Homo sapiens: one gene and its partners. The protein of the gene in region 2 interacts with the protein of the main gene of each other region in a pairwise test. Each region holds a gene or a part of one and is shown on either strand. Other genes may lie near its edges. The genes, in order: NAB2, JAKMIP2 and CCDC88B.

What was found.
Region 1: the proteins of JAKMIP2 (region 2) and NAB2 interact in binary tests that used the Homo sapiens proteins (3 or more experiments, as listed by UniProt).
Region 3: the proteins of JAKMIP2 (region 2) and CCDC88B interact in binary tests that used the Homo sapiens proteins (3 or more experiments, as listed by UniProt).

Annotation. Positions count from the first base shown.
Region 1 is NC_000012.12:57,091,973-57,095,719, reverse strand, and holds the end of NAB2 (NGFI-A-binding protein 2), read right to left. Parts: coding exon 3,722-3,747; intron 3,273-3,721; coding exon 3,139-3,272; intron 2,804-3,138; coding exon 2,752-2,803; intron 2,658-2,751; coding exon 2,525-2,657; intron 2,314-2,524; coding exon 2,122-2,313; intron 1,109-2,121; coding exon 999-1,108; 3' UTR 244-998; downstream 1-243. UniProt on the Homo sapiens protein: Acts as a transcriptional repressor for zinc finger transcription factors EGR1 and EGR2. Isoform 2 lacks repression ability.
Region 2 is NC_000005.10:147,587,012-147,590,758, forward strand, and holds part of JAKMIP2 (janus kinase and microtubule-interacting protein 2), read right to left. Parts: 3' UTR 1-3,747.
Region 3 is NC_000011.10:64,343,173-64,346,919, reverse strand, and holds part of CCDC88B (coiled-coil domain-containing protein 88B), read right to left. Parts: intron 3,742-3,747; coding exon 3,595-3,741; intron 3,414-3,594; coding exon 3,305-3,413; intron 3,143-3,304; coding exon 3,006-3,142; intron 2,924-3,005; coding exon 1,763-2,923; intron 1-1,762. UniProt on the Homo sapiens protein: Acts as a positive regulator of T-cell maturation and inflammatory function.

The DNA of each region.
Region 1 (3,747 bases), on a different chromosome or scaffold from region 2:
AATACTCTGAATTTGGAGTCTGACTGTGCCCAAGTGGGTCCAAGTGGCTGTGACATCTACGTATGGCTCCACACCTCCAATGCTGCCTGGGAGCCAGGGTGAGAGTCTGGGTCCAGGCCTGGCCATGTGGCCCTCCAGTGTATGAGAGGGCCCTGCCTGCTGCATCTTTTCTGTTGCCCCATCCACCGCCAGCTTCCCTTCACTCCCCTATCCCATTCTCCCTCTCAAGGCAGGGGTCATAGATCCTAAGCCATAAAATAAATTTTATTCCAAAATAACAAAATAAATAATCTACTGTACACAATCTGAAAAGAAAGACGCTCTAACTGCTCAGATAGGTGCTGCGGTCCAGCCCCCAGCTGGAGGAGACCCTGAGTCCAACCCAGGCCTCCCGAGGGGGCCAGTGAAGGGATCCCACACCCACCGCCCCTATGTAGGGCAGGGAAGAAATTGCAAAGGACTTGGGGGATAGATGGGAATGGGAGGGCAAACTGCAGCACTTGTTAAATTAATTAAAGAAACAAACCAGAAGCACAAAAACGGGGAAGGAGAGGGGAGAAGGAGCAGGTCCAGTGTTCCCAGGCCCCCAATTCTGGGGGCAAATGTTGCCACTTTTAGCTGGACCTTCCCAGGGAAGTCCCCCTTTCCCCCTTGTCCAAACTGAGTCCAACTGCTCACACCACTGGTGCAAACCTAAAGAGAATGGGAGTGTGTTGTGTGAGGGAGGGGAAAACCCCAGATGCCCTGGAGGCAGAGTCCTTGCCCCCTCGCTCTGGGCAGGGGTGAGGGCACCACGCACCCTCCTTGTGTCCTCTCTCCAGGCCTCTGCTTGTTATTGCTTGAAGCCCCACAGTCTTATGCCCATGGAGCAGGTGGGGAGGCAGGAGAAGGGCAGAGGAAGGATCCAGGGTTGTGACTAGATTCCGGGGATGGAGAGCGTGGGGGTCTGTGTGAGCCAGAAGTCTGAGGTCCTGGGTCTGAAGACACCAGTCCAACCCTCACTGCCGGCTGGCCTCAGCCTCCACTTTCACGCTGCTCCTGCGACCCTCCACCAGCGCGGGATGGGGTCCTGGGGCAGGACATCTGTCCAGCAGCCCTTCCTCGAACTCTGCAGGGAAAAGGGGGCAGTTAGGAGACTGCAGGGTGACTGGCTGCAGACAGAGGTGGTTGGGAACAGAAGCAGGGGCAAAGAAAGCTGTGAAGATGGGCTCAGTTTAGGTTTATTGAATTACTGCCTCCTGCCCACTGCATGTGTATGGGGGGTTCCATTCCCATGTGTGTGAGCCCCCTCCCCTCCCTGGCTGTGCGTAGCTCTGTCTCTGTCTGTCTCTCTCTCTTTCTCTCCCGCCTCCTCGGTTGCGCTGGAATTTCTGGTTCTGTCAGGAGCTGCGGGGGTGGTTTGGCTCTGACCTCTCCCCTCCCCCCTTCCCAAGCTCTGCCACCCCCACTCATCCCTGGCCCCCTCCCAGGCCCCTCCCAGGCCACTCTACCATGGCCCCCCAAGTTTTTTGGTAGCCAAATCAGAGGGAGAACAGGAAGCCAGCCTCCGAGCTCCTCCCTCAAGAAGAGCCCCCCTTCCAGTCCCCGCCCCCACTTCCCACCCACGCACAGTTTAAAAATACCAAGCCAGGGTTGGTGGCTTTGTCTGCTGCGTCACTCTCAGCCCAGCGGCTGCCCGGCCCTCCGCCTGCCCACTCCCTCTTCCCCCTTCCACACACAAAGCATCACTGCTTTGGGCTCCTCTGCTTCCAAGCTGGGCATCCCCATCCCCATACCCACAACTCCTAGCCTGCTCCCCACTCCTGGGTTGGTGGAAGTGCCATCTGAGCTTCCCTTATTGATGCTCCTCCTTCCTGCTCCTTCATCCTCTTTTCTCTGTCCCCCCATTCCCCAGTTCCCCTTTCACAGATCTACACTAGGACCAGACTTTCCATGGTGGGAGCAGCTCGGCAGGGTCTGCCTCTCTGCACCCCAAGGCCTGGCTGGCTGGAGCCCAGCCATCCTACTGCCCTCTCTGACGACTATATCCCTCTTCCTCCCACCTGGCCCCAGGACACCAGAATTGCTGTGTGGGGCCTGAGTGGCCGGGGTGCTTGGGGACAGCACTGCTGGCTGCCTCACCTGCGAGAGGTGGCTTCGCAGGCACACAGGGGCTGAGGCGGCCCACGCGGTCGTGGGAGACGAGGCGGGCGAGCCGCAGCCCCTCGTCCATCAGTGTCTGCTGCAGGATGTGTCGGCTCCATAGCCCATGGGCTGGCAATGCCAGAGGCAGGTCAGCAGGGGGCGGCGTCAGCCTTGGACATGACCCCACAGCTGTGGGCATGGGCACTGGTCAGGTAAGGGGCTGCAGCCAATGGAACCCCCACCCTCAACCACATAGCCAGCCCACAGGCCCTTCTGCCCCCCCTCCAGCCAGGTCTCCCAACCCTGTTTCAGGCACTGCCTCCTGGCTCACTCCTCCCCCAACCCCCTCCCCTACTCCCCCACCCTCAATGAAGAGAAAAGTGTTCTGAGGCACACTCACCCTGCAAATGTCCATCCAGACTCTCCCCAGACAGGCTGGCGCTGTCCTCCTCCAGGCTGGGGCGGTATGGGGGTACATAGGACTCAGGGCCTGGGGGAGGCTGCTGGATTTCAGGGTGACTCTGTTCTCCAACCTGTGGATGCCCAACATGGGGAAATGAAGACCTGCCAAGGGAGGGGATTGGGGAAGGCTGCCCAGTGCCCCTATATGCACCCCGGAAAACATACCTCTTGTTTCAGCTTCTTCAGTGGAGGGCCTCCCAGTTCTTCAGGGTGAAGCCTGAAAAGATGGGTAAGAATAAAGTGGATGAGGCTGACGAGGGCCACTCGACTGGCAGAGCACAGAACCCAGCCAGAGGCATGTGTTATTTAAAACCTTTGCCAAGAAGCTGGCCGAGAAAGAGTCTCTAGTTCAAGCACTATTGTTGTAGGGGGTTGGGGGGACCCGACATGGATGGGAGGAGAGACCAGACCTGAGACAAGCTGACTTGGCCAAAAGCAGGACATCCAGGTGGGCGGGAAGCAGGCCTAGAGCTGCCTGAGCTGAAGGTTAGGACATGATCTAACTCCATAGCAGGATTCCAGTCCAGGAAGGACCTGGGGAAGGGGTCTCACCTGGAGCCCTTCAAGGAGGACAAGTAGGTGCTCTCTCGGGCTACTTGGCGGGACAAAGAGAAGAGCTCCACTCTCCGTAATAAGAGCGTGTTGTCCCTCATGCAGAACTGGGCAGCAGCCTCGTTGATGGTGAGCTGTGGAGGGAGGGCAGCCAGGAGAGTCAGAATTCGAACTTCCCCGCTGCCTCACCAGACCTCCTCACACCCCTTCACCATTGGACAAATGAGGCCCATCCATCAGACGCTTGCTTTGGTTTTGACACTACATGGGAGCTTTCTGAGGTGGGAAGACAGAGGTCAGCACCCACAGCTTCCTAGGAATGCCCGGGGCCTCCTCCTCTCCTGTGGGGTCCTGAGTGACAAGGAGCTGAACAGCTCGGTGCTGCCTGTATCTCTGCTTCCCCCTCAGCTGAGGATGGAAGCACTGCGGCCGCTGGGGTAGGGGCCTGTTGGGGAGGGGATCAGGGCCTGGGGTCCTGGTCAAGAGATAATGAAAGATAGTCGGAGACTGTAGAAACTCGCAGAGGTAAGCGGCTGGAGACCTGGAAGTCAAGGGCAATCCTAGGAGGCCTGGGGGTTCTCACCTCGTGCAGGCTGAGCTGCTTGCCCT
Region 2 (3,747 bases):
GGCCTTACAGGGATTAGCTCCAACTTTCCATTATGTCTGTATCTTCTTGCCAATATGCCTGAAATTAGATCTCAAGATACTACATTATATAGAAATGACAAGGCAGTAGAACACAATGACATCTTTCCTCACTTAAGACCTAGAAGTCTGCTTAAAGAGGGGCTTGGGTCCATATTGGAAGCATAAACTCATGACATAAACAGTCATCTAAGATTTGCTTTGAATGTTTATCATTCAAAAGTTATATTGAATTTTTTCAATGTAATAGATAAATCTAAATTAGTAAAATGATAGAATTAAACTGCCAAAAGCTGTCATTAATTACCAAAACACTGTTATGAAAATTTCACAAAAGGCAACAAGCAATGCAACTCCCAAATTACAGAGCAAATTTCTATTGCTCTGTGTGTGTGTGTGTGTGTGTGTGTGTTTGTGTGTGTATTCTGTGCCACTCTTTGACAGATTGAAATAATGCAATTAAATATTTTAAAAATAAAATTTCTATGCTGTCCATCTATCTTGATGTAATATAACACAGATGATCCAATTATTTAAACATCAACACAAAACCAATGAATATTCTTTTTACAGTTTCTACAAAAACCTAGGCAGGTTAAAAAGACGTGCTTCATTTTGAAACAATGAACTTGTGAATTATGTTAAAGCAAACATAAGAATTACACAATGGGTTTACAGGAAAATTTGACAGTCAATGGGCAAAAAGGAACAAGTTTGCCAGAGATTTATTTAAAATTGAAAGCAAAGTTGAAACAAAATACTGCAGCAAAATTTATTTGGCAAACTTTATTTCTCCTATTACTAGTGGAGAACACATTTGCTCTCTACCTAAGTGATAACCCAGGCCTTCTATATCAGCTCTACCTTATGGACTTGGGAAGACACATACAACCTGTATGAGCAGTTATTTGTGGGCCAAAAAAAAAAAAAAAAATTAAATCAAGATCTATTCTTCCACCCCTAAAACCTAACTGTTGGTAATAATTTAATTTATATAGCATAAGTCAGAAGGGTTGTAATTTTTTTCAGCAAATTCTATTTCCTAAAAGTAGGGTGGCATTAAAGAAAAGTTTGACATTCAATTTAGTAATAGATGCTTTTTAAGTATGATAGTCAAAGATAGTCTCTCTATGTTTTTCCCCTCTTTCATGAAATTTTTCTATCCTGAATAACTATTTAAATTGGGTCTTTTATTTATCTCAAATTATCTTTAGTAGTCAGTTATGTTTATTTTCCAGGGTATGAATATTTTATTGAGAAAAATTAAGTTAATGAACCCGGAAGAATGCTGTTCTGACTGCTACAAACTCAGTAGCCAAATGCATCTCGGTAGTACAGATGCAGAAGTGGGGCCACAGGAAATCTCAGTTATTGATAACTTTTTTTTTTTTTTTTTTGCTATTGCTGAACATCCCATCCAAGGGAAGCATTCATTTAAACACGGTCCATTTCCATGGATCCATGAGTGACTGGAACACATATCCACAATTTTGCTGATGCTTTTATAATTGTGAAAATGGATAATAGAGAGATGTATCTATTGAAATATTTATACTTTATTCAAGGATATATTCATTTTGAGGCTCATGAGCAAGAGTTGGTAAAAATTACAGTTCAGTCTATAGTCTTGAGAAATTTGCTAATCTCCCAGATCTTAAGCAAAAAGAAAAAACAAGCAAACCTTTTGCCTGGCCCTAAACACATCTAAAGCTGCTTGGACAATCATCCTAGCTGTTGTTCTCATATGACTTATAGCAGATAAGCAGATTAGGTATATAAACCATACCACTTTTTCAAAAATTTTCAATCATTTAGAAATAGTTACTCATGGAAATAAATTTTGACTTACAAATTTCTTGGTGGGTGGGAAAGCAAAATTAAGAGAAGGAAGGTGTGTGTTGGAGCAGACGGAATATAGATTTACTCATATGGGCCCTGCAACAGAAAGTGAAGAAAAATGGAAAAGTCTTAGATATGTGAGAGTAATTTATCCTCTTCCATATTTTCTGACTCAAGTTGGCTAGTGTTGGGTCACCAACACTGTAGAGGCACCCTCTTTCACATTTCTTGCCTAATGAGCATATGGCTCATATTTAATCTGGAACCTACCTAGTTGAATAAAGAATCCAGCAGGAGGCCGGGCACAGTGGCTTACACCTGTAATCCTAGCACTTTGGGAGGCTGAGGCAGGCAGATCACTTGAGGTCAGGAGTTCGAGACCAGCCTGACCAGCATAGTGAAACCCTGTCTCTACTAAAAATACAAAAATTAGCCAGGTGTGGTGGTGTGCACCTGTAATCCCAGCTACTAGGGAGGTTGAGGCAGGAGAATCACTTGAATCCAGGAGGTGGAGCTTGCCATGAGCCGAGATTGTGCCAATGCACTCCAGCATGGGCAACAGAGCAAGACTCCATCTCAAAAAAAAAAAAAAAAAAGAATACAGCAGGATAGTCTGTTTTGTATCTTCCCAGTAGGGCATACCACCTGGCTTTCCTCCAGAATAAAAGATAATCAAGCTAATTATGTGATACTGTCAGTTTGCTCCAAGCCTTTGTTTAATGACTGGCTCTCCTGTGGTAAAAGTGGGGTTCTGTATGATGGCATGCATATGCAATCAAGAGAGCTGGGAGATGCTTATCATAGAAATGACACACTCTTCTATCTTGTTCAATAGCATGAGATGATCTATTTCCTATAGATTATTAAAGATCCTGGTTTTGAATCTCTCAATTTTTATTGCTAATAATGTCCCAAGTAGCTTGATAAGCAAGCTTCAGTGCTATAGTGCTTAAATTTAACCAAACTGAAGCACTATTTTATTACATGAGGGAATCTTTTTGTCAACAACACAAGAAAGTCAAATAATACAGCACTTGTAATAATTACAAAGCACATTGTGCTACTTTAAGCACCTCTTGTTCTAAAATTGCAAATAAAACTTTATGAAAAAGCATTTTAACCCCATTTTGCAGATGAGGAAACTGAGGCACAGAGAGGTTAAGTGACTGGGCCAAAGATACCTGGGTCAGCAGTAAATGTAAGAACAAAAAGTGGGACCCCAGCATTCTAGTTTTTATTGTACATTCTTCAGTTATTGTTCTGGCTTTGCAAATGCCAGTGCTAAAACTGAAGGATGATAGTGAACCCACATATGGAAAGATTTGTATAGCATTTCATAGAAAGAGTTTCTGGCTCCCTACACATATTCTCTATGCATGGGAATTCTAGCCCCATAAATAAAACTTCAAAAATTTGAAAAATTGAGGTTGTTCTGTTATCTACAGTAAATGAGGTGTAAAATTAGCTTTTCAGGAACATACATTTGCTCTCAGAGATGACTCCAAGACTCAGTAATACACAACTTAGGAAAAGTACCAGTCCTCTAATTGTCTCTGGTAGAAAATGACCTTGTCAGTAACATAATGTTATTTCCATATAAAAAAGTAGAGCTATCTTGTTGCTGTCATCTGTCTGGGAAAAAATGTTATCACTCTAAACAAGAAGAGGTCAGAATGCTCTAGGCATGTGAGGATTCTTTAAAAAATAATAGTTTAGTTTAATATTCACATCTCTGTGGCAAACCCGACTCTTGGTAGAAATTTACTCATTGATTCTGCTGTGTTTTTGCCCAAATCATATAGCATATTCATTTGCAGGCAATTTTAAGCAGCCATTTGAAAAACAGTATTTTGGAAATGAAAGATTCAGAGATGCTCTCTGGCCCATGTT
Region 3 (3,747 bases), on a different chromosome or scaffold from region 2:
GAGAGGCTGAGGCAGGAAAATCGCTTGAACCTGGGAGGTGGAGGTTGCAGTGAGCCGAGATCACGCCTCCAGCCTGGTGACAGAGGGAGACTCTGTCTCAAAAAAAGAAAAGAAAAGAAAAGAAAGAAACTAGCCAGGCCAACATGATGAAACCCCATCTCTACTAAAAATACAAAAATTGGCCGGGCGCGGTGGCTCACGCTTGTAATCCCAGCACTTTGGGAGGCCAAGGCGGGTGGATCACGAGGTCAGGAGATCGAGACCATCCTGGCTAACATGGTGAAACCCCGTCTCTACTAAAAACACAAAAAATTAGCCGAGTGCGGGAGCGGGTGCCTGTAGTCCCAGCTACTCCGGAGGCTGAGGCAGGAGAATGGCGTGAACCTGGGAGGCGGAGCTTGCAGTGAGCCGAGATAGCACCACTGCAGTCTGGCCTGGGCGAAAGAGCGAGACTCCGTCTCAAAAAAAAAAAAAAATACAAAAAGTAGCCAGGCGTGGTGGTGTGTGCCTGTACTCCCAGCTACTCAGGAGGCTGAGGTGGGAGAATCTCTTGAACCTGAGAGGCGGAGGTTGCAATGAACCAAGATCACCCCACTGCACTCCAGACTGGGCAACAGAGGGAGACTCTGTCTCAAAAAGAAAAAAGTGTCCAGTCCTCCTCTCACACCCACTCCCATGCCTCCCTAGTCAGCTTCCTCTGCCACTTACACCATGGCTACTGCGTCCTGATAGCCCCAAGCTCCCCTGTCCACCAAGGTGACCCTCCTCAAGCGCAGCCCCACACAGTTCTACCCTGGCTTTCCCTGCCTGGGGAGGGAGGACCAACACATTCAAAGCTGGCCCTCATCATCCCTTCCTCCTGGGCCCTGAGCATTCTTTTTTTGTTGTTGTTTCATTGGATGGTGTTTGTTTGTTTTGAGACAGTCTCGCTCTGTCGCCCAGGCTGGAGTATAGTGGCACAATCTCAGCTCACTGCAACCTCCGCCTTCCGGGTTCAAGCAATTCTCCTGCCTCATCCTCCCAAGTAACAGATTACAGGTGCCTGCCACCACGCCTGGCTGATTTTTGTATTTTTAATGGAGGCAGGGTTTCACCATGTTGGCCAGGCTGGTATAGAACTCCTGACCTCAAGTAATCCACCCACCTCGGCCTCCCAAAGTGCTGGGATTACAGGTGTGAGCCACCACACCCAGCCCCTGAGCGTCTTTAATGCCTTTGTCTTTGCACATGCCATTCCCTCTGGACAAAATGTCCTCCCCACCTAGTGACATTATGGTCACTCCTCCTAAAGCCTCCTTGCCTCCACTTGGGCATCAGCTCACCCTCCCATGGGCTCTCGTAGCACTTGGCTCTGAATAACCAGTGCTTGAACACTTACAACATACCCTTGCCAGCATGAACCAGACCTTTACAGCTACTGTCTCCCAAGGTCCTCCTAAGACCACCCCAGGTGGCCAGGAATAGTACCCCTGTTTTACAGAAGGATGCCTGGGGTGGAGGTGAGTCTACTGCTGCAGCCAGAGAGCCAAGATGTGTACTAGGCAGTCCCACCCCCTCCCACAGCGCCCCCATCACACAGTGGACATGGCTCTGTGCCCCAGGCCAGGCACACCTTTGGAAGGCAGGGGTGGACTTGGCCTTTCTATCTCCAGCCCCAGCTCAGTGCTGGGCACCCACTGAACAGCTGCTGATGGAATCAGTAACTCCCAACAGCCTGGAACTCTGCTTCCCAACCCCAGCGGTGAGCCCCAACCTGACCTACCGCCTGGAGGGCCTCCTTCTCCCGGCGCTCCCTCTCAGCCTCCTCCAAGTGCTGGCGGCCCTCGCTCTCCAGCACCTGCATCCGTTCCTCGGCGGCCTCCGACTGGGCCCGCAGCCTGGACCCCTCACGCTCCCACTGCCTCCGCTCCCGGCCCGCTGCTGCCAGCGCCTCCACCAGCGCCTCCCGTTCCTGGGACGCAGACTCCAGCTCCTGGCCAGCAGCCTCCACTGCCTCCCGCAGCCGGGCTTGCTCCCAGGCCTGGGCCTCTGCCTCCCGGTGGGCCTCGGCCTCTGCCCTTCGCGCTTGGGCCAGCTCCTTGGAGAGGCGGGCAGCCTCCGTGTTTTGGGCCTCCAGCTTGCGGGCCTGGGCTTCCAGCTCATCTCCAAGGGCCTCAGCCTTTCTCCTCAACTGTGCCACCTCCTCCCTGAGGGCCTCCTGCTCTGCGACACCACTGGCCAGGCTCTCCCCTGGGATTGGGCCTTCCCAGACCTGGACCTCAAGAGCCCCTTCTGACTTCTGCTGTGGTTTTTGCCAGGCTGGGTCCCTGACCGTCCCTTCCAGCCTCTGGTCATGCTCTCTGGCCTCTGCTTGTCCCGTGGCCAGGTCCAGGCCCTGGTTTGGGCCCTCCTGCTCCTCCAGCTGCACAGAGCTGGGCTCCGAAGGCCCTGGCTTGTGCTCAGGGCCCTCCTGTCTCAACCCCCAGGCCTCAGGCACCAACTCGCCTTGGGGAGCCTCTCTTCCCTCTGTCTCTCCTCCCAGCAACTGCGGGGCCTGAATTTTGGTCCCTGGACCCTGAGGTGGGGCCACAGAGGCAGGGCTCTGGAGAGAGGATCTACGGCCAGCCTTCTCCGGGGACTCCTGTGTCTCCACAGGAGAGCCTGACTCTTGCGGGGACCAGTCTGAGGCCTGGGGGTCCATGGCAGCTGCCTGAAGGGGACTCTCTGCCTCCTGTGGGTCTGAATCAGGTGCCTGGGGACACTCAGCTGATGCCTCGAGCACTGAGTCTAATGCCGGGGGAGCCAAGTCCAAGGCCTGGGGGCCTCCATCCCTTGCCTTCTGAACCAAGCCCTGAGGGCTGTGGTCGAAGGCCACAGGAGTCTGGGGAGCCTCCTCCAGCACTGGAAGAACAGGGTCCTCTCTCGGTGCCTCCAGCAGGGGGTGCTGAGGGCATACGAGAGGGACAGTCAGGCCCAGGGAGGGACTAGGGGAAGGGCCGGCCAGGACCCTGGGGGAGGGGACTTACCTGGCCCCCTGGCTGCCCCTGAAGCACCTGAAGCAGCCCCCGAAGCTCCCGGTTCTCCCTCTCAAGGGTCCGAAGCCGCCCAGCCTCTGCCTCCCTCACCTCATCTTGCAGCGAGGGGGCCGCTCCTGCTAGGGGTGCTGAGGATGAGAGATGAGGTCAGGACCCCTCCTTTACTGCCTGGCTCCTCACATACACACCCCAGAGGCTTGGGAGAAGGGAGGGAGTCAGAGGCTCTCCCCAGTACACTGCTGGAAAGCATAGGAAGCCCCCACCCCAGCCCTTCCAGTGGGGTCCCTCACCCTCCCCAGGGGATCCTGGAGGTGGCTCCAAGCTCCGCTGAAGCTCCAGCTCCAGCTCCACATTCTCCTCAGCCAGCTGGTCCACCTGATGCCGCAGAGAGTCCAGCTCCTGGGGGTGAGGGAAGGGTCAGACAAGCCCTCCACACCATGGCCAGGCCGAGTGTGTAGGTCGGAGGGTCACTAGAGGTCACCAAGAGCAGAGGTTGCAAGAATCACTAGGGACCACTAGGGAATCAATGGGGTCATGGGGTGACGGGGCAACCCAAGTGGGATCACTCTGGCTACCTTACCGCATGGGCCTCGCCCAGCCGGGTTCGCAGCAGCAGGTTCTCGCGCTGGGTCTCGTGCAGCCGGGCGCAGCGCTCTCGGGCAGCCTCCAGCTGCTCTTCCAGCAGCGCCTTGGACGCCTCCAGCACCCCCGAGAGCACCCGCTCCTCCTGGTG